4 linked regions of the Homo sapiens genome follow. The protein of the gene in region 4 purifies or fractionates together with the protein of the main gene of each other region. This does not show direct contact. Each region holds a gene or a part of one and is shown on either strand. Other genes may lie near its edges. The genes, in order: NUDT21, CLTA, CLTB and EIF3CL.

Region 1 (2,850 bases), about 28 Mb from region 4:
ATATATTCCCGTATTTTGGGTAAACTTTCTATTTAAGATAACATTGAATTACACAGTATTACATATGCAGCAGGTATGGTGTGTGTCATAGAACATTATGAATTCCAGGCAAGTTTGAGAAAAAAAACTAAAGGAGTCAACCCTCCCTTTACAGATGAGGAAACTCGGACTCAGTCCCCAATGATATGGACTACACACAGTTAACACAACTGTGTAGCAACTTCTAACTTGTGGCCTTCATGTTCCAAATCTAGTGACCCTTTCACACCTCAGGAAACTGAAACACTGCTAACACACAATGGGAGGAGGGAGTGTGTGGGGCACAAGGAGAGGGCAACATCAGTGACCCAGGCCATCAGGCCCTTGCTATTATGCTAAGCTGTCTCTTACCTAAAGGCCCTCGGCCACTCACAGTGACGAACCATGCAAGATTTCTACTAGCACAGTAGGATCAGCAGCCACACATACAGGACTACTATCCCAAAACAATCACAGAGTCATTCTCTTTCAAATATTTTTTATTGAAATGACAATAAAATAAAAAAAGAACAGTGATCACTTTAACCAAACTTACTTTACAAATATAAAAATATAACCAAAACTTGTTTCTTTTATACATTTGCCATAAACGTAATACCAGAAAAGTTCTCAAAACCAAACTATAAATGATGCTTGAATACTATGATGTGAACACAATAACCAAAAGTTTAAATTTCTAAATACATGACCTTTCCCTCAACAGAACAGCATAATCAATATATCTTCCCAACTTATCTCTATTTTTACGATATGATCCATTACTAAGATACAAAATACACCTGAACTGGCCTAATCTAGAGTTACCTAGGTTTTAGTAAGTTTTTTTCCACAAAAACAAGCTTAATAACTATAATACAAGCTAATATTAAAATGTGTTTTATGGCTCAAATCAAATTACAGTATTAGGTTTCTCATCACGATTTGAACAAAAGCAAACTGCTTGAAATGAGTCCAGTTTAACCCAAATAATCAGTGATGTATAACAAGTGAAGTAAGTATGGGAAAATCAAATCTTATGCTACAGAAAGCTGACTTATACTACAGTCAACAACCACTAAGCCTTCTTTGGCAATGAAACATACAAAATTGCAAACTCTGATGCAGTCTCAGTGATTGGCATATACTGTTCCAAACACTATGAACTAGTAAAAACATTAAGTTTGAGGATGGAAAAGCTACCCCAAGCATTTCATCTCAAGTGACTGAACAAGTACTGTAAAAATAAAGTCATTAAAAAGCCGAGAACATAAGAGCACAACATTTAAGAAAGGGAATTTTAAGCCGATTGCTTGCTGGCCTGTTGAATTTGAAGTACTTCTACCTCTCACTTCTAATTAAACATGGAAGAAAACAGACTGGCTAATTTGGTCACACTTTGTCCAAATACAGTGTTAACTTAATGGAACCCTTAAATATCCAAAATAATAAGTGAATGCTATTTATAAGACAATAAAAAGTTTTAAAATCTTCCAAATGTGCTGTTAACAGTACAAATTCAAGTGCAGAATTATTACGCCATTTTAAGTATTATCTACTTTTTTAAAAAATCACAGTGGTCTTCATCACATGGCGAAAAAACAAACTTCACTCTTCTCCAAAGGGATAAGTCCATCCTAAATGTAACTACAAACAATTGTATAAACCTTTATAGTTTTTCCCCCTAATCTACTAAACATATTCCAGTGTCATTTAGTAGTTTTACATAGAATCTGCACTATACTTGGATACTCAGGGAAAATAAGATGACATATATTGTAGTTTTAGAACGCAAAAGAGCTTTCATTTTAGACAAATATACAACATAGAAGCCACTAAAAAATATGGGTCTATTAATCAAGAGCCCATTTCAAAATGATAAGAGCATTTAGTATGTAGATCTGGAATGCACAGTTTCTGGAAGTATTAGAACTTAGTGTTAAACAGTGCCCTTATACCCTCTTCTAATACTGTAGACACCTACCAACCAGATTTGATTTCCCCTAATTCTATTATTTCCATCAGAAAACCAAAAACAGATTATTGGGGATCCACCTGTAACTGACCAGAGCAAAAAGTTTTTAAGACTTCCGTTTGTGTGTTGCAACTTTTACATTCAAAACCAGATCTCTTACATTTCAAGGTTAGTAACCCAGCCATCCTGAATCAAAGGTTTTTCTCAACTAGGCCTTAGTGTATGGATGACTGGCTCACGTACTTACTGTATATTGGGAAGAAGTGAAGAAGTGAGAAGTGAAGAATTTCTTGGTCAAAGTTTAAGTTACAAAGAACATGAGTGGCCTCGAATCAGATGACTCTTCAACTCAAACACTCCTTACTGAGAGTACTTTATAAAACACACAACAAAAGTCTACCTCTCTCCACCCTCCACAAATTGCAAAAGTGAACATCTGAAATGTGGCCACTGTAGCTTTTCCCTCAAAAGCAATCATGGAAGGTGAGCTGAATCAATCCATCTTCATATCCACTTCCTCCAATCTAAAGGAATAGCTGAAGGACGCAGCTAATGGATGAGCTTACCAGCAAAATACATTACATGAGAAATATGCTAATGTAGGCTAGAGGGGTAGGACTGTTAGGGGCAGGAGGGAAAAGGACAATTCACAGAACTAGTGGCTTTTTCAAAGGAAACTGGGGCATTTTTGATCATGGAGACTGGTGCTCACCTACCATGAAGGACATGCACAGTTAGTCACTACTTAACCACCATGTGAGGGTTTGACATGACCCCAACTAAAAAAACTTGAGTGTTTATTAATTGCTCAGCTACACTTGGCCTGATTTCCTCAAGTATCATATACCTTTGACATCACC
Region 2 (6,444 bases), on a different chromosome or scaffold from region 4:
AACTAAAGCTCAGAAAGTTTGAGTGAATTTCCTAAAGGTTATAGTAAGTGACAGAGCCAAGATTCAAACCCAGATCTGGCTGTAAAGCTTACACTTTGCTTACCTCATTATGCTTCCTCCAAAGGGAGGGACAGAAAGGGAGGCAAGCCTAGAAATAATCACAAAACGTGACCACCAGTGATCTGGACAGAGTTTTGAAAGTGCAGACCAAGAGCCCAAACTGTAATTAGTGTCTTTGAGAAGGAGAGTAGATAGCAGTAGCGGTGTCAAGTAACTACTAGAAGGGATGAAAAATGAAGTATTCTTGGGCATTTTTAGGGCCTTTGCAAGAAAGGTCTTATAGTAACAACCTGCAAAAGGCTGTGTGTAACTATAAGAAAAAGCCTAATAGCAGCTAGAAACTCCCCCAAGTTTCAGGTTAGTAGGAACGTTCATCTCGGTATCTAATTTGTCGGAAGGTGATCTGTCGTTCAGAAGAATCATTTTCTCAGATTTTTCACTGATGACTCTAAAGTATATACAGTAAACTTTTTTTTGTTTTATTTGAGATAGGGTCTCGCTCTGTAGCCCAGGCTGTACTGCAGTAGTTCTATCACAGCTCACTGCAGCCTCAATCTCCCAGGCTCAAGTGATCCTCCCACCTCAATCTCCTAAGCAGCTGGGACCACAAGCGTGCACCACAACCCCCAGCTAATTTTTTTTTTTTAGTAGAGATAGGGTCTCACTATGGTGCCCAGGCTGGTCTTGAACTCCTGAGCTCAAGTGATCCTCCCACCTCAGCCTCCTAAAGTGCTGGGATTACAGACCTGAGCCACACCACCTAGCCTCTACAGTAAACATCTAATATGTGTCTATCCATGGCATGAAGTACAGATGTGGAATGCAAGATTTAGCTATGCTGCAATGAGAAGCTGTGGGCTGGAAGTGCCATGTGACAATACCTAATTCAAAATGTAAGGCCCCCTTTTCAATCATGGTGAAATTACTTCCAAATAATTACCTTTTTGATTGGACAGTATTTTCTTTCAATGTATTTTGATGTTAACATTTACTATACATTAGGACTAAAATATAAAATTTATCTCTGAAAAATGAAATTAAATAAAAATGGTGACCTCCTGAACAGACTGTGGTTACTGCATAAAATAGTACATTTAAATTGGTCTTCTGGCTTTTGCAGCTTTAGTGCCACTGCAATACTAATTTAGAATTCTTCCCCTCAGAGGATGAAGAGGAAGAGTCCCCTTAGAGAGCAAAGCACATTCACAGGTGCCTTCCCTTCTGGCCACCCTCGTTACTGGTCAGAGAAAAGAAAATTACTTGAGAATGTAGCCAGCAGCTAGGCTGAAAACCACTGGCACCGGTTCTCTATTTTTAGCATCGCGTGCTTTCTCACAGTTTTTGCAAGGAAAAAAGGTGAAATTGAAGGAACACCTTGTTCATGAACCAAGTGAATTCAATTCAGTTGGAATGCAAGGCCAAATGTTGTACTTCTCTCAAAAAAAGCACTTTGAATTAAGAAAACAGCTCATAAGAGTATTCCCCAAGTACCCAATTTCATAATTGAAAAATTAAATCTTTCCAGACACCAAAGTAGACTCTCTCCATGGAGAAGAAAAACTGCTAGAGCTTGGTAAAACAGAAAAGATAAATTTGGGTTCTGTAACATGAAAAATACTACAGCAGTACTAAGACCAGCTAAATCTTGCCTCTAAGCATACTCAAGAGACACAAAGAACAAGCAAGGACCAAAGCTGTTAGGACCTATTTTCATCTTCCTACAGCTCCACTGTCCAATATGGTAGCTACTAGCTACATGTGGCTACTTCAATGTAAATTTATTAAAATTAAAGAAAATTTAAAATTCAGTTTCTCAGTCACACTTGAATTGTGAAGCCACACTTCAAGTACTTAACAGTTACATGTGGTTAGTGGCTACCATACGAGACAGCACAGATACAGAATATTTCCACCAAAGAAATCACTAATGAATGGTGCTATAAAGGTTCAAATACTAAGTGCATTCTTTGTTCTGAAAGCCACCTAAATTGGACTAGAGAGATAAATGATTTGGCACTAATTGGCTGTGTCATCTGGGTCATGTCCCTTCCTATTTCTGGGTGTCAGTTATCCCATCTGAAAAATAAGGACTCATGTTTTCACTAGTTCAACAGTTCCCAAGAGGGAATAATACTGCTGACGTTGTGGTTACATAGGAGAATGTCATTATTTCTAGGAGGTGTACATTGAAATATTTAGACACAAAGTATATGATGTCTTTATCTTAAAGTAGGTCAGCCAAAACAATTTGTGTGTGTGTATGTCTAAAACATATCATTTATATAAAGATAATCCATTAATTACTGAATCTGGGGGTGCACATGTTTATTTTCCTCCTTTCAATTGTTCTGTAAAGTTGAGAAAAGATGAATCTTAAAGTCAGCTGATTAAAAAAAGAAAAAGAAAAAACAAAGAAAAGGCCACAATGTGGATTATATCCTCACACTCTGCATACTTCTCCAATCCACCATGTACAGACACAAGTCTCCCCTGATCATGAACCAACAGGTGACACTCCACGTACACATCTCTTTATCAAAGGCCAGGCTGTGTGGCTAGATGGCCACGCACATTAAATGTTTAGAAAGCAATGTGGCTGATGGGGATGGGTAGTGACTTTGAAGCAAGGCAGACTTCAGCTGAAATTGTGACTCTTACCATTCCTTAGCTGAGTATTCCAAATACTTATTCTACCTCTCCTCCACTTTTCTTACCTGTAAAATTGTAAAACTTACCTTACAGAGATATTAAGGTAGGAAAAACAAATTGTACATTTTTTCCTAACATACCTCATTTTCCTCGTGTTACTTTAAATTCATTTAGCCTTCAAATAAAAAATGGAGGCCGGGCGCGGTGGCTCACGCCTGTAATCCCAGCATTTTAGGAGGCCAAGGTGTGTGGATCACAAGGTCAGGAGATCGAGACCAACCTGGCTAACACGGTGAAACCCTGTCTCTACTAAAAATACAAAAAAAAAATGAGCGGGACGTAGTGGCGGGCGCCTGTAGACCCAGCTACTCAGGAGGCTGAGGGCAGGAGAATGGTGTGAACCCGGGAGGCAGAGCTTGCAATGAGCCGAGATCGCACCACTGCACTCCACCCTGGGTAACAGAGTGAGACTTCATCTCAAAAAAAAAAAAAGAAAAAAGAAAAAAGAAAAATGGACTGTTAAAGTCCACGGACATAGGAAACTTGAATCCTTCAAGTTTATAAAGCACTCTATAAACACCACCTGAGGCTACTCTTGAGGTCAGGAGCAGCATCACTATGCTCTTCCTGTGAGAGGATCTTGGGGATCTCCGGCTACCCTACTCCTCACACAATGGCCTGTGATTAGGCATCTCTGTGCAGGTAGCCTTGTAACCTTCAGGCTGAGAAGATATCTTCCCAAAGACCAGACAATGACACTGGTTAATGTGAGCTAAAAAGGAATAAAAGTAGAGTCCAGCTCAACTACTCCACTGAAAACAGACACCAAAACACAGAAGGGATTCCTTACCAAGGGCTTCCAAGCGTTCCATTTGTTCTTCTCTCCATTTACGGATACTTTCAGGCTCTGACTGCAATCGATCCACTTGTGAAATAGCTGCATAACTGTCTGTTGGACCATTACTTTCCTTAACACAAAACACAATTGTGCTATATTAATACCAAAAATTCCTTCCTAAAATGCACTTCACCTGAGTTAGAACCCCTGGTTCTGTTTTTTTTTTTTTTTTTTGAGACAGAGTTTTCACTCTTGTCGCCAAGGCTGGAGTGCAGTGGCACGATCTCGGCTCACTGCAACCTCCACCTCCCGGGTTCAAGCAATTCTCCTGCCTCAGCCTCCCGAGTAGCTGAGATTACAGGTGCCTGCGCCTGGCCTATGTGGTTGCTTTTTTTTTTTTTTTTTTCTGGGGTGGGGGAAGGGGGGACGGGACAGGGTCTTACTCTGTCACCCAGACTGGAGTGCAGTGGCGCAATCTTGGCCAACTGCAACCTCTACTCCCCGGGTTCAAGCAAATTCTCCTCTTGCCTCAGCCTCCCCAGTAGCTGGGATTACAGGCACATGCCACTACCGCCTGGTTAATTTTTGTATTTTTAGCAGAGACGGGTTTCACTGTGTTGGCCAGGCTGGTCTCGAACTCTTGACCTCAAATGATCCACCCACCCCAGCCTCCCAAAGTGCTGGAATTACAGGCGTGAGCCACCGTGCCCGGCCTGTGTTGTTGCTTTTAAGGTAATCCTTTAACATTTTACAAAAGCCGCCATTGTTGTTAGAAACGGGTTCTGCAGTGAGCCAAGGTTGCGGTGGCTCTGGCGGGGTGCGGTGGCTCACGCCTGTAATCCCAGCACTTTGGGAGGCCAAGGCGGGATGGTCACTTGAGCCCAGGAGTTCAAGACCTGCCTGGCCAACATGGCGAAACCCCATCTCTACTAAAAATACAAAAAATTAGCCGGGCGTGGTGGCATGCGCCTGTAATTCCAGCTACTCAGGAGGCTGAAGTGGATGAATCGCTTGAACCCAGAAGGTGGAGGTTGCAATGAGACAAGATCGTGCCACTGCACTCTAGCCTGGGCGACAGTGAGACTGTCTCAAAAAAAAAAAAAAAAAAAAAGACTCAAATAAATGTTAATCTTTACAAAATTATTCCATATGCCACTCACTGAACTAAGGAATATTAATATTACCAGGTTAACCTAATCAGACTATAAACAAAGATGGAAGGAGAATTATTTAAAGTATTAGTATTAACTTACTGCACTCAACACAGTATCATTTGAATGGTGATTTCTTTAGAATAAAGGTGATAACACTAGGGGCAGGTAAATAACATTTTTAAACAGTTCTCTTTTTATCAATGCTACCTCTCTTTAAATCTTTCCACTTTGGTAGATAACACACCAGCCAGTAATACATTCAGGAAAGTCAAAGGACTGGGGTTTCTTTCTAGGTCAGTCAATTAAAATCACAGGAAAGGAAGATTCTCAATCACTATCAATGAACAGAATCAGAGTACTCTGTACCTGGTAGTATTCACCATTCATTACTCCATCAACAGCATCTGCAAGACATAAGATTTTGGTCTATCAATAAGGACTGGTCAAACACTGGGCCAAAGGGTTGTACAGTAGAATACAGCATCATATGCTGTATGAACCTTGAGCTACTAAATGCTATCCCTGTGGTAGGTGCTATATACAACAAATAAAACCAAGATGTGCTTATATACAAATTTCACCAAAATGTGTACACATCTGTCCTTAAGCTCCCAAGTCCAAAAGCTTTTGATTTTATTTTCTGTTTTCTATTTTACAGTGGTAACAAATGGAAGACTAGCAGAAAGAGAACAGTGTTTCTCTATGAAAATTCTGCATGAGGGAAAAAAAAAAGTGTGGCCTGGAATCACCCATAGTGAGCAGAGACCTGCAGCTTCATCTTTGAGACAGTCTTGCTCTGTCGCCCAGGCTGGAGCAAAGTGGCCCAATCATGGCTTACTGTAGCCTCGACCTTTTGGGCTCAAGCGAACCTCCCACCTCAGTCCCCACAGGAGCTGGGATTGCAGGCATGCGCCACCACGCCTGGATAATTTTTCTATTTTTTTGTAGGAAGGGGGTTTCGCCATGCTGCCCAGGCTGCTATCGATTTCCTGGACTCAAGCGATCCACCCGCCTCGGTCTCCCAAAGTATTGGATTACAGGCATGAGCCACCATGCCTGGCCTCTCATATTTTTCTTAATTTTCCTAGTTGACTTTTACTCCTATATGTCAGTACAAAAATGAGTTTCTTATAGTTTGTCAGTGGCCTTTTACCACTTTAAGGCATGTGCCACCTACCTATGTAGTTTTTTAAGCACTCTATAAAGTTTTGGAAATATGAAGTTTATCAAACTAGTGAAAGCATGGGGGAAGCATATTCAATTTCGCCTCTGTAATAAATTTCTTGGTGTAGAATTGCTGGGTTACAGCTGGGCGCGGTGGCTCACACCTATAATCCCAGCACTTTGAGAGGCCAAGGTGGGAGGATCACTCGAGGTCAGGAGTTCAAGACCTGCCTGGCCAACATGGTGAAACCCACCTCCATATACTAAAAATACAAAAATTAGCCAGGGTGGTGGCATGAGCCTGTAATCCCAGCTACTCAGGAGGCTGAAAGAGGAGAATTGCTTGAACTCGGGAGGCAGAGGTTGCAGTGAGCCAAGATCGCGCCACTGCACTCCAGCCTGGGTGACGGAGCGAGACTCCATCTCAAAAAATAAAAAAAAAAAAAAAGAAAAAAGAAAGAAAAAAAAGGAATTGCTGGATCACAGGATATGTATTTTATTTTTTTTTGAGAGAGAGTCTTGCTCTGTTGCCCAGGCTAGAGTACAGTGGTGCAATCTTGGCTCACTGCAACCTCCACC
Region 3 (6,444 bases), on a different chromosome or scaffold from region 4:
ACTAGCTACACAACTCGAGCGAGCTGTTAAACCTCCTGTATAAAACAGGAATAATGACAACCAACATCACAGGGAGTTGGGAGGACTCAGGGAGATCAAGCACGTAAAGCCCTTGGCTGGTGCCTACACAGAGAAGAACTCAATCTGTTAGCTCCTAATGCTTCCCCAAAGCCAAGCCCTCACCTTCCTGGGCTCCCATTCACTTCTTTCACTTCTTTCCCTGTCTTCTATTAGAAGCGAGTTTGGGACCAGGTGCAGCGGCTCACACCTGTAATCCCAGCACTTTGGGAGGCTGAGCAGGAGGACTGCTTGAGCCCAGGAGCTCGAGACCAGCCTGGCCAATATAGCGAGACCACATCTCCATAAAAAAATTAAAAAATTAGCCAGGCATGGTGGCCCTCCCTGTAGTCCCAGCTATTCAGGAGGCTGAGGCAGGAGGATCACTTAAGCCCAAGACTCAAGGCTGCAGTGAGCCATGATCACACCACTGCACTCCAGTCTCAACTACAGAGCAAGACCCTGTCTCTCAAAAAAAAAAAAAAAAAAAGAAAAAGAAAAAGAAAAAGAAAAAAAAGAGAGCTCTTTGGAGACAAACTATCCAGTGGATTTGCCTCCATATCCGTTTATTCACTGCCCTAGCAGGTGTGTGGCCATAAAAGAATGTGCACTGACCAAATGAATGAACGACCAAACGTATAAACCAAATGAATAAACAAGTAGCTGGGTACACAGGGGCGTGGAGGGCACGGGACGAGCGCTGGACACTCCATCAGAGGGGCTGGGCTTTACATCCCCCTTCTGCCACTCACTGGACTCGCGACCTTTGAGAAGTCCCTTCCCTGGGCAGCTTGGCTTTCAAACCTGTTAAATGAGTGACAATATCCTACTACCGGTGGGAAGTGAGGCTTACGAGATGCTATGGTAACACTCTGCAGCCCATAGAGGGCGTGTGCGTATGAGGGACAGCATGGCTGCTGTGGCCTGCTGTTCCGGTGTGGCAGGGCCCCACACCTGCTGGCCCTCCGTGCACCATGACCAGGAGAGCACAGTGGTGCTGCTGGCAGGCAAAGCCCCGAGAAGCAGTCACCACTCATTATTTCCGGGCTGCTCAGAACTTATTTTCCTGCCCCTGTCCCCACCCCTACCCTTGCCAGTGACAGTGTCACGGGCCACAACTGGGCTCTCGTTTAATCACCTGAGCATCTCAGTGGGGAGATCAGTCATGGCCAGGAGGGTTGGCAACCAGGAGAGATCACCAGCGGCTAGAGCAATGTTCTGACTCCTCCCAAGCTCTGGAGAGAGAAAGGGGCAGGAATGGCCAGGACCAGAAGGCAGGAGGCGACAGTCAGGGCCAGGCTTGTCTCAGTCTAGCTCCCTAGAATCCCTCTCCTGAGGGGCCCCTCTGCTGGGCCCACCCATGAGAACCTCTGTGGACCCACACCAGCCAAGCGTGTGCTGCGACTCCAGGGATGGCCAAGAGGATGAGCCACATCCTTCTTTGGGATTGATCAGCTAAATCTAAGCTAAGCTGAGCTGCTGATTCCTCTAAGAAGCTAAAAGGAGGATGATGGGAGTATTAGGGGAAAGGAGAGAGGATCTGTGCAGAGGTGGGGAGGCGGAGTCCTGCAGGGCCCTTCTGTCCCTGCCCCTGGCTGTGCCAAATGGAACTGGAATAGTTGTGGGCAGGCTCGTCCTTAGGCTGTATTGGCAACTGGGTTTGTAGCTGGACCCGCTGGTGGTGCACGGGCTGCAGAAAAGAGGAAGAAAGGAAGCACAAAAGCTCTGTCTGGGATCCTTGAAAGTGTTGGGTGTGCACAGGCCAAGGTTTCTCCTCCCCCTGCAGGTGCAGGCCAGACCTGCTATGCTCAATCCTAAAGAGCTGGGGCTTTCCACCTGTGACCCAGGCGCTGTGGCCAGCCAGTTCCAGCAACAGAGTCGTAATGCAAAGCACACCGGGTCGGAGCCCAGGAGATGTAGGCAAGCTGGGGCTTTGCCACTAAGCTTCTGAGTGATTCAGCTCATCTGTGACCCTGCCCTGCCTGTAAGGATTCTCGGATGGCACTGATGTGATATGATTTACAAATAAACACACCTGCTGTGATTCTTAGTAACAGTGAGAATAAGAGTTCTCACTCAGATTGGAAAGGAGGCCCCGGGCTCCTCAGATTCACCCACAGCTCACCCACGGCTGACAGGTCGGGAGGGAGAAGGCGGGGGGCCAAGTCAAATGGGGTGCACTCCAGAAGTGGCTGATTTCCTGGGTGACTTTGCATTCACCACTTCACCTCTCTGAGCTTCGTGATGCTAATCTTTAGGAAAGGTAAATGATCCAGCTCAGAGTGTTCTAGGTACTTTCTTTTTTGAGACAAAGTCTCGCTCTGTCGTCCAGGCTGGAGTGCAGTGTGCGATCTCAGCTCACTGCAACCTCTGCCTCTGGGTTCAAGCAGTTCTCCTGCCTCAGCCTCCTGAGTAGCTGGGATTACAGGCAACCACTACCCTGCCTAGCCAATTTTTGTATTTTTAGTAGAGACAGGGTTTCTCCATGTTGGCCAGGCTGGTCTTGAACTCCTGACCTCAAATGATCTACCCACCTCAGCCTCCCACTGCTGGGATTACAGGCGTGAGCCACTGTGCCCGGCCATGTTCTACATACTTCTGTGGTTCCAAGCATATCTCCAGCTCCAGGTGCACTTTAGGACACAGAACTGTGGGGTCAAGCAAAGTCCTTCTGAATGTGGCCAGAGAGCCTGGGCAGCCTAAGTCTTAATGATCTACCAAGCTGCACAGAAGCAAATCCTCATTCTTTGACTCCCTCGGGCCCAACTAGACATGAAGCTGCTGAAGTCCTAGAGATGGACTTTTCCAGCTTGCTGATAGTTGAGTAATTTTCCAGAAACAGGACTTGGCCAGTCTCCCTGCATAAGGTACCAGCCCATCCCTCTTACATAAGAAAATAAGTATTGTTTACTCCCCCAGAGGATTCAAGAAGCCAGCTCCTCCAGGGCGGGGCTCAGAAGATCCCACAGCCAAAGACCCCAGGATCAAGGCTCTTTGGCCCAGTCTGAGTGGGAATGAAGGCTCTGAGGGGAGGTTTAGCCCCACCAGGCATCTGGCTGGGGGGCCGAGGTGAGGACTATTGCATGCCTCTGTGGTCTGAGTTCCCTCAGAGTACTAAAATGGATTTGTGTGTATGCAAGGGGAAGAGAGTTAGGTGGGTGCGGACAGAAGCAGTCTTAACTAGAAATACACTTACTAGGGTTTTCCTCTTTTTTTTTTTTTTAAGACTGTCATGCCGGGCACGGTGGCTCGTGCCTGTAATCCCAGCACTTTGGGAGGCCGAGGTGGGTGGATCACTTGAAGGTCAGGAGTTCGAGACCAGCCTGGCCAACATGATGAAACACCATCTCTACTAAAAATACAAAAGATTAGCTAGGCGTGGTGGCGGGTGCCTGTAATCCCAGCTACTCAGGAGGCTGAGGCAGGAGAATCACTTGAACTCAGGAGGCGGAGGCTGCAGGGAGCCGAGATCGTGCCATTGCACTCCAGCCTGGGCAATAAGAGCAAAACTCCATCTCAGGAAAAAAAAAAAAAAAAGACTCACCCAGGCTAAGTGTAGTAGTGTAATCATAGTCACTGCAGCCTGGACCTCCCCAGCTCAAGCTGTAATCCTCCCACCTAAGACTACTGAGTAGCTGGGACTATAGGCACACACTATTGCCCCAGCTAATTTTTCATTTTTTGCAGAAATGGGGTCTTACTATGTTGCCCAGTTTGGTCTCAAACTCCTGGATTCACATGATCTTCTCACTTTGGCCTCCCAAAATCTGGGATTACAGGCGTAAGCCGCCGTGCCCGGCTGGGTTTTCCTCGTTTTTTGCAGGATAAAAACACTTAAAGAATTTGTAAACAACCCAGTGAAAGTGAATGCCCCTTTCTTATCCCCATCCCACCCCACCCTTGGGGCTAACCATTGTTAACAGCTGGTACACATCCTTTCAGATATGTAGTGCAAACCTTTAGTTTTATTTTTTTGAGATAGAGTTTTGCTCTTGTTGCCCAGGCTGGAGTGCAGTGGCGTGATCTCGGCTCACCGCAACCTCCCACTCCCGGATTCAAGCTATTCTCCTGCCTCAGCCTCCCAAGTAGTTAGGATTATAGGCTTGTGCCACCACACCCAGCTAATTTTGTATTTTTAGTAGAGGTGCGGTTTCACCGTGTTAGCCAGGATGGTCTCAATCTTCCAACCTCATGATCCACCTGCCTTGGCCTCCCAAAGTGCTAGGGTTACAGGCATGAGCCACCACGCCCAGCCCAAACATATTTTTAAAATTGAAAAAAAAAAAAAAAAAAAGGACCATACTGTGTATATTATTCTGCAAGCTGCTTTTTCCACTTAATATATTGTGGACATCTTTTCACGTCAATACAGGAAGATCTGATTGCCCTTTTTTTTTTTTTTTTTTTTTTTTCAGACAGAGTTTCACTCTCATCTCCCAGGCTGGAGAGCAATGGCACAATCTCAGCTCACTGCAACCTCCACCTTCTGGGTTCAAGTGATTCTCCTGCCTTAGCCTCCCGAGTAGCTGGAATTACAGGCACCTGCCACAATGACTGGCTAATTTTCTGTATTTTTAGTAAAGACGGGGTTTCACTATGTTGGCCAGGCTGGTCTTGAACTCTGACCTCACGTGATCCACCCACCTCAGCCTCCCAAAGTGCTGGGATTACAGGCGTCAGCCACTGCACCCGGCCCTGATTGCCCTTTTTAACAACAGCCTGGTTTTCTAATCTATCTATTCAGTTCCCTGATGCTGGACACTTAGGTTGTCTCCAAATTGTCTGCCATTATAAATAACCCTGCAAAGAATCTGGGTGGCCTTGTCCAATTATTTCCTTTGGGAAAATTCTGGAAGTGGAATCTCTGGATCAAAGGGCCCGCCCTGTGTGTGGAGATGGCCTGGGTTCTGCCTCCCGTCAGTGGTGAGGGAAGGCCTTGCGCTGCCTTCATCTCATGCTGCTGTGGGCCACTTGACCTCTCCCTCCCAAAACCAGACATCACCATGGGCAACCTGAGGCTACTGCCCATCAATCTCGATCTCTAGTGGTCCTTATTCTTCTTCCCTGCCCTCTACATGACAAAAAAAATTCCAAAAACCTTTCTCTATGTTTCCACCCCAATGCATCAGACATAATGAACAGGAGAACCTGGAGCTGTAAGCCTACAACAATGAGGCTTTAGGTTACTGAGACCAGGGCTGTTGGTCCTTACCACTGCTGAGACAGAGCCTTGCTTACCTGAAACACATCTCCATTGACTGTGGTCCCCATGTCCTCAGAACCAGCTGGAAAGAGAACAAGGAGATAGCATTACTCACTGTTTAGCTTATAGCAAGCAGGAAATGGTCCTACATTAGCCCCTCAACCCAAACTCTGTGTATACCCATGTATATATCGACCCACATGCAAACAGACATAATGGATATATATATAACTTAGGCTCAATCCCACCCCTGACTGTTTATAAAGCCTCTCACAGCCATTAGTACATTTTATGTTCACCACAGCCCTGCAATGAAATTGTTGTCAACCCATTTTACAGATACTCAAGCTGAGGCTCAGAGAGGCCATGCTCAAAATCACCCAGCCAGTAATAGCTCCTTACCTACCTGAAATCACTGACCCCTGGCCATGGCTGGGAATGGCCAGATTACCTGTGAAGCCTGTGCCTGGTGAGTAGGCTGAGCTGCTGTAAGCTCAGGGCAGGGGCTACACTGGATAAGGAAGAGAGGGGCCTACGCGTCTCTGCCTGTCCCTGAGGCGCCTTGAGCAACTGCTCCTCCTGGGTGAGCAGGAGTTGCAGTTCCCACCAGAAGCACCTGGCATATTTTTTCTCTTTGTGCCCCTCCCAGAAGGAATTAAGTTTGCCCTCAGCAGTGACTCCTCCCTGTCCCTTTCCTTGACATTTGATTAGTCACAAATTCCTGGGGCTTCTGCTACAACACTGACATTCACAGTTGCCCTCCACTCTCTCCCGCAGCTCAGCCCCAGCCCAGGACCTCACCACCTTGCACCTGCACAACTGCTTTGCCCGCTAGGGGCAAACACCTGGGAAGACATAACTGTGTCTCTTTCTCTTCTCCTGTGTCTTTCCCAGAGACTTGCATGCACCTGTGACTTTGCAGGTGCTCAATAATTATTTGTTGAATAAACAAGTAAATACATGCATGAAAGAAAGACAACGACTGCATGGCTTTTGCCCATTCACAGGCCCCCTTGACTCCAGCCTCTCCCATCCCTCTTTCAAACCAATTGCCAGGGCTGACAGTCTGTAAAACATGCACTTACCTGTGCCTCTCCTCTGACTCAAAATGTCATGAAAACAAACTCCAAAGAAATCCACTTCCCATGGACCACAGTGGCCTATAGCGCCTACTCCTGCCTTGG
Region 4 (7,034 bases):
ATATTTGGACTCTGGAGCCTTCAATTCTCATCTTTAGGACACATTAGCTTCGTGACTTTAGCCAACTAATGTACTTGACTCTCTGATCCTACTGTAAAATGCTAACAGTTGGCTGCTCCAACCTAAAAGGACTCCATGGAAGAATCAATAACCTTCCAGACAATTAAGAGCTTTCCACCAGTTCCAGTGTAACCCTAGGTCCCACTACTTTCCTTACTTTTTAAGAAATCTTGAGGCCAGCGCGGTTTGTTTCCCTTCTTCCTCCTCTGAGTCGGAATCGGAAGATGTGGAACCTGTGTCCCAGTCTTCATCATCTTCGGAATCTTCTGAGTCCTCATCTTCATCCTTAGAGGGAAGAAAAGAGGATCAGCAAGAAGACAGGGAGATTGACTGGTGTCTCCTCCTTACTAACGCATGTTCGAGATTTATTTACATGAGTAGAACAAGAGCAGCTACTCATGGAATCAAGATACCAAGGGCTGGGACTCACCATCAAGTCCCAGAGTGATGCTGCAATTTGGCCGCAGGAACACACACAGCTTCCCCTGGCAGAGCTGGGCCCAGATCCCTGTTTGCCCACTGCTCTGATGTAAGAGGAAGCTTGTTCTCAACTCCACTAAATTCCACCCCTCCCAACCCTAGGGGTTTGAGTCTTGTCTTTTTCCCCCAGGGACTCAGGAACTACCTCTGGCAGGAAATCATCCATCTAACCCTGGCTCTTACATCCATCTTTTTGAGGAACTTGCGACTCTCCCCAGAAGGAGCTTCTGATTTCTTCTTCAAGAAAGTTGCAGCACTGACTCCGTCCTCATCCTCATCCTCATCTGAAGAGCCTAGTGGTAATGGAGGGAGAAAAAGATCCTGAATGTTGAAAAGCCAGACTGGAGGGCAGCCAAGAAACCAGGCGAAGGGCAACACTAACTCTGGACTTCCTATTTGCAACAAAGGTTCTTTGGCTCACCTTCTGAATCCTCCTCATTTTTCTCAGCATCTTCATCCGCAGACTGCTCGGGGTTCTGGACAGAGAGGGAAGTGAGAGAACAATCATGGACGCTGTCCAGCCATCAGCCCACCCCACCCCTCCACCCCAGACAGTTCTGTCATCTTCCTGCTCCAGTCACACCTCCCACTAGCAATTCCATCTTTGGGCCTCAGTCACGGGGTCACTGTTCCCAGTTCAGTAAGTGTGCCTCTAGCCTCCCCACCTGCTTGTAGCTTGTGATATGGGACTCGAAATCACGGTTGTATTTTCGGATCTTCTGACGCAAGGTGCTCAGAGCCTTGGCATTGTTCTTGTTCATCTTCTTCTTCCCTTCCTTATCTTCCCAAAGCTAAAGGGAAGAAGAGGAAAGAAACAGAGAACAGTGATTTGAAACTAAGTAACATTTCCTAAACTCCAGGCTTCTTCTCCACTTTTGAGTCTTGCTATTGGAACACCACTGGTACTACTTATTAACTACATCTGTTAGCTTATTTTTAAAAGATCCTATACATCCCACCACTAAAAGTACAAAACCATGAATAAGTGGTGGTAATAAATATAGGCATCACACCTCATTAAGATAGTCCTCTAGGTCAGCCAGGATGCGGATATAGAACCGGGGGACACCTTCTTTGTCCACAATGCTTTTGGCCTTCCCATATGCTTTTCCCAGGAGCTCAAACTCTTCCAGGCACTTGGTGACATCACGAATCTTCATGGCATTACGGATGGTCCGGATAAGGTTGGTCAGCTCCTCAAACCTGGGTTGGGAGCCCGATACCACATTGAACGTGCCCACCGAGGGAAAACTCACCACTGCTCCCAGAGACTCCTATCACCCAGCCTCCCCACAGCTTCATTGCTCCCAGAGACTCCCATCACCCAGCCTCGCCATGGCTTTACCTCTTGTCCTTGGCACTGCGGACAACTCTCTTGGTATCTTCTTCATCCTCGCTCAGCAACAATGGCCTGTTTGGAAGGAACAGAGGCCATTAACCTCCTTTCCCAGTCTTTCCAAGAGATCCGTATTTCCCTACTCAGGACAGGTAGAACTAAGTAATCCAGGCCATCCACACCACACCCATCCTCTTTTTGACTCCTCCTCAGGGCCACTTCATATACAACTCAATCTTTTAAGTGTACACTAAGTAAGGCCTTTTGCTCAGTGTTGTAGCAACACAAAGATGACATTCACTATCCTCTCAAAAACAAATGAAAGTGCTAATTTACTGTGTAACTAATGACATAGAGACACAAGTCACCACAGAAGTAATGAATAAAAAAAGAGGTAGAGAAAAATGATACTTGAGCTATAATGAACAGAAAAGGCTTTAGGGAGGTGGTACCTAAACTAGATCTTAGCAACATTTCCCAAAGTATGAGAGGCCAACAGCAAGGAGAAAGTCTCAATGGTATTAACACCTCCACTGCTAGTATTTTTCTACGATAATAAGACCAGACCACAGGCTCACAGTCAGCAACAGTATCTCTACTCTTTTTGTTTGTTAAGAGATAAGGTCTCACTATGTTGCCCAGGCAGCCTCCAACTCCTGAGTTTCAAGGGATCCTCCCACCTCAGCCTCCAGAGTAGTTGGGACTACAGGCATGCACCATCTTGCCTGCCTCTTTTCCCTTTTTATTATTTTTTGGATTATTTTAGCGGTGTTTTTTGAGGTGGAGTTTTGCTTTTATCGCCCAGGCTGCAGTGCAATGGCGCAATCTCGGCTCACTACAACCTCCGCCTCCAAGGTTCAAGAGATTCTCCTGCCTCAGCCTCCTAAGTTGCTGGGGTTACAGGCATGTGCCACCACAACCGGCTAATTTTTGTATTTTTAGTAGAGACGGGGTTTCACCTTATTGGCCATGCTGGTCTCAAACTCCTGACCTCAAGTAATCAGCCTCCCAAAGTGCTGGGATTACCGGCTTGAGCCACCTGCCCAGCCTGGATTATTTGGTATTTTATGGCAAATGACACTGGTTTCCACCTGTGGAAGTGATACGAAACCATATGCATATTGGCATATACATGTGCAATACATACTTTTAAAACAGTAGCACAAACGTGGCAGATGTTTAAGAAACACCATTCCAGTGGGGCACAGTGGCTCATTCCTGTAACCCCAACACTTTAGAATGCTGGGCGGGAGGTTCACTTGAGCCCAGGAGTTCAGAACCAGTCTAAGCAACACAGTGAGACACCTTCTCTACAAAAAATTAAAAACAATTAGCCTGCTGCGATGGCGTGCACCTGTAGTCCCATCTACTTGAGAGGCTGAGGTGGGAGGATCGCTTGAGATCTGAAGGTCGAGGCAGCAGTGAGCTATGACCCCTCAAAAAAAGAAAAAAAAAAGGAAAAAGAAAAACCATTCTATTGTTCCAAAGGGTAAAAAAAAAAAAATTAATGTACAGAAATGGCGGATGGGTATTTACGTAGAGGTGAACAGGCATATAAAATGTTTAAGCACCTGCGTACACAGCAGGTGACCAGACTTCAGAGTCGCATCAGGGGGCTCCCAGATACCAATCAAGCATTTTGCATTTCCTTCTGTGAGCAGTGAGAAGTCACTAAGGACTTCTCGGCGGTAAAATGAGAGGAGACAGGTAGAGGCTGTAGACTTAAGGCCAGTTAAGAAGCTGATGCAACAGATCTGGCTTGGGAAACCTCTGTGATTCTATCCCTTGTGCCTGGTGGGTGGCTACCGGCTATCACAGCCCTCTAAGGCTGTCTCTCTCCAACACCGCTCCGATCCTGCAAACTCTGGTCATTGTCCAAACCCACTCTCCCCGCCCTCACCTCCATCCCCTCCCATGTGCACTGCGTTCCACAGCCTGCCTAACCCCGCACTCCCAGAATGGTCACAGCCACAGCCCCCGCAACTCACTGTTTGCCATAGTTGCCTCCGACAGGTTTGGTGACGAGCTCCTCCCCGGACAAGGACGACTCGGACTCGCTGTCCGAACCGGTGGTGAAAAACCGCGACATGGCGACGGCGCGGAGGTGCTACGGCCGGACCTGCGGGGGAGCCAAGGCGTCACCGGCCACGCGAAGAGGCCCGAGCCAACACCTCCCGACGCCCAACCCCTCACCGGCCCCACCCGGACCTCGACCTGGGTCTCCCACCACGAAGCACGAGGCCCAAAAAATACCAACCAGCTGAGCCCGCGAGTCACACCGCAGGGCCCTGACAGCGGAAACGCCGAGAGAGAAGGCGGGTCCTCGCGTCACTTCCGGGAAGCGCCGACTAACTACACTGGGAGACTACAACTCCCAGTGGCCTTCGCGCCATAAGGGGGCGGGGACAAGCCTGAGGGAACCGGGCGCTGAGACCTTGGCTGCAGGCGTCGCGAATCCTACCGCGCGTTGGTGTCGGGATTTAAAACACGAAGATCGGCGGGGCGCAGTGGCTCACGCGTGTAATTACAGCATTAATAGGCATTAATAGTATAGAAGTAGATAATCCTGCCGGGTGCGGTGGCTCACTCACGCCTGTAATCCTAGCACTTTGGGAGACCGAGGCAGGCGGATTACCCGAGGTCGGGAGTTCGAGACCAGCCTGACCAATATGGAGAAACCCCATCTCTACTAAAAATACAAAATTAGCCAGGCGTGGTGGTGCATGCCTGTAAGCCAAGCTACTCGGGAGGCTGAGGCAGGAGAATCGCTTGAACCCGGGAGGCGGAGGTTGTGGTGAGCCGAGATCGAGCCACTGGACTCCAGCCTGGACAACAAAAGCGAAACTCCATCTCAAAAAAAAAAAAGTAGACAATGCTAGCCAGGCACAGTGGCTCACTCCTGTAATTCCAACACTCTGGGAGGCTGAGGTGGGTGGATCACCTGAGGTCAGGAGTTCGAGACCAGCCTGGCCAATATGGCAAAACCCCGTGTCTACTAAAAAATACGAAAATTAGCCTGGCACAGTGTCACCTGCCTGTAATCCCAGCTACGTGGGAGGCTGAGGCTGGAGAATCACTTGAACCCAGGAGGAAGAGATTGCAGTGAGCAGAGATCACACCACTGCATTCCAGCCTGGGTGACAGAGCAAGACTCTGTCTCAAAAAAAAAAAAAAAAAAAAAAAAAGTAGACGATGCTAGATCTTGCAGGTCTTTATAGGCCTGTGGTTTGGAGCCGCCATCGGCAGAGGTTTTAGTGCAAGGGACTGTGTTACATTTTTCAAGGTGGTTTTGATATGGGAGCGGGACAGGGAAGTGCTGGGAAGGGAAGAGCATGCTCTTCCAAAGTGCTGGGATTATAGGCATGAGCTACCACACCTGGCCGTTTTGTTTTTTATTGTGAAATATTTCAACAGACAAGAATAAAGACTATTCCAATGGACATCTATGTACTCACAACCCACCCAGCACCGTCAAAACTTAATATGAGGCTGGGCATGGTGGTTCATGCCTGTAATCCCAACACTTTGGGAGGCAGAGGTGGGCAGATCACTTGAGGTCAGGAATTCGAGACCAGCCTGGCCAACATGGTGAAACCCCATCTCTACTAAAAATACAAAAATTCGCCTGGCATAGTGGCAGATGCCTGTAATTCCAGCTACTCAGGAGGCTGAGGCAGGAGAATTGCTTGAACCCTGAAGGTGGAGGTTGCAGTGAGCCAAGATCGTGCCACTGCACTCCAGCCTGAGCGACAGAGCAAGACTCTGTCTCCAAAAAAAAAAAGTTAAAAAAAAAAACCAAGGGGTTCATTGTACGTCTGTAAATCCATAAATATCTTTTTTTTTTTTTTTTTTGAGATGGAGTTTTGCTCTTGTTGCCCAGGCTGGAGTGCAATGGTATGATCTTGGCTCACTTCAACCTCCGCCTCCCAGTTTCAAGCAATTCTCCTGCCTCAGCCTCCCAAGTAGCTGGGATTTACAGACGTGCACCACCACATCCAGCTAATTTTTGTATTTGTAATAGAGAAGGGGTTTCACCATGTTGTCCAAGCTGGTCTCGAACTCCTGACCTCAGGTGATCCACCCGCCTCGGCCTCCCAAAATGCTGGGATTACAGGCGTGAGCCACCACGCCCAGCTCTCTTTATTTTAAATAATATGTGTACATTTTTACAAAATGAAAATGGTACAACAGAATACACAGGAAGAAAAAATATACAGGAAAAAATGTTTCCTTCCTGCCCTGACCTCATGTTCATCAGCTTTTCTCTCTAGAAGCAAACACAATTGTCAGTTTATAGCGTTATCTTCCAGATGTCACTTTGTGCCCTCTCTCTCCGTATCTCTCTTTGTGTATACACACACACACACACACATACACACACACACACAGAGTTGACTCTTGAAGAATGTGTAGGTCTACGTATATGTGGATTTTATTCAATAAATACAGTCAATCCTCCATACAGGTGGGTTCCACATCTGGAACGAAATGTCAATCAAAAATAACAGTATTCACTGGATTTGAAACCCATGTATACCAAGGGCCCAAATTTTGTAACTACAGGTTCCACAGGGGCAACTGCGGGACTTGAGTATGTACAGGTTTTGGTATCTCCCAGGAATCCTAGAACCAATCCCTTGAGGATACCAAGAAATGACTAGATAGAGACAGAAAGGATATAGATAGATGTATTGTATGTGTGTATGTATATATATATGTGTGTGTGTATATATATATATTCAATATATGTATATGAATTATATAGATCAGGGTATGTGTGTGTGTGTGTGTGCGTCTACCTGGAACATATCTGTCTCTACCATTGTTTCCTGCATCTTATTTCATTATTCATCATATATCTTGCAGCTCATTCTGTATCAGTGCATATGGCTCTGTCTCATTCTCTTTTTTTTTGTTTGGTTTTTGAGACAGAGTCTTGCTCTGTCGCCTAGGCTGGACATAATCTTGGCTCACTGCAACCTCCGCCTCCTAGGTTCAAGCGATACTTCTGCCTCAGCCTCCTGAGTAGCTGGGATCACAGGTGCCTGCCACCACACCTAATTTTTGTACTTTTAGTAGAGATGAGATCTCACCATGTTGGCCAGGCTGGCCTTGAACTCCTGACCTCAAGTGGTCCGCCTGCCTTTGCTTCCCAAAG

The links.
Region 1: the proteins of EIF3CL (region 4) and NUDT21 fractionate together in Homo sapiens (co-fractionation; one large-scale study listed by BioGRID). This does not show direct contact.
Region 2: the proteins of EIF3CL (region 4) and CLTA purify together in Homo sapiens (affinity purification with mass spectrometry, with the first as the bait; one large-scale study listed by BioGRID). This does not show direct contact.
Region 3: the proteins of EIF3CL (region 4) and CLTB purify together in Homo sapiens (affinity purification with mass spectrometry, with the first as the bait; one large-scale study listed by BioGRID). This does not show direct contact.

What each region holds. Positions count from the first base shown.
Region 1 is NC_000016.10:56,428,633-56,431,482, forward strand, and holds the end of NUDT21 (cleavage and polyadenylation specificity factor subunit 5), read right to left. Parts: 3' UTR 501-2,850; downstream 1-500. UniProt on the Homo sapiens protein: Component of the cleavage factor Im (CFIm) complex that functions as an activator of the pre-mRNA 3'-end cleavage and polyadenylation processing required for the maturation of pre-mRNA into functional mRNAs.
Region 2 is NC_000009.12:36,196,212-36,202,655, reverse strand, and holds part of CLTA (clathrin light chain A), read right to left. Parts: intron 5,106-6,444; coding exon 5,068-5,105; intron 3,678-5,067; coding exon 3,560-3,677; intron 1-3,559. UniProt on the Homo sapiens protein: Clathrin is the major protein of the polyhedral coat of coated pits and vesicles.
Region 3 is NC_000005.10:176,404,962-176,411,405, forward strand, and holds part of CLTB (clathrin light chain B), read right to left. Parts: exon of another isoform or gene 6,346-6,444; intron 5,863-6,345; exon of another isoform or gene 5,667-5,862; intron 5,343-5,666; coding exon 5,296-5,342; intron 1,748-5,295; coding exon of another isoform or gene 1,577-1,747; exon of another isoform or gene 581-1,576; intron 1-580. UniProt on the Homo sapiens protein: Clathrin is the major protein of the polyhedral coat of coated pits and vesicles.
Region 4 is NC_000016.10:28,399,654-28,406,687, forward strand, and holds the start of EIF3CL (eukaryotic translation initiation factor 3 subunit C-like protein), read right to left. Parts: upstream 4,189-7,034; 5' UTR 4,134-4,188; exon of another isoform or gene 4,085-4,133; intron 3,996-4,084; 5' UTR 3,966-3,995; coding exon 3,865-3,965; intron 1,952-3,864; coding exon 1,886-1,951; intron 1,744-1,885; coding exon 1,554-1,743; intron 1,332-1,553; coding exon 1,206-1,331; intron 1,017-1,205; coding exon 962-1,016; intron 834-961; coding exon 724-833; intron 346-723; coding exon 218-345; intron 1-217. UniProt on the Homo sapiens protein: Component of the eukaryotic translation initiation factor 3 (eIF-3) complex, which is required for several steps in the initiation of protein synthesis.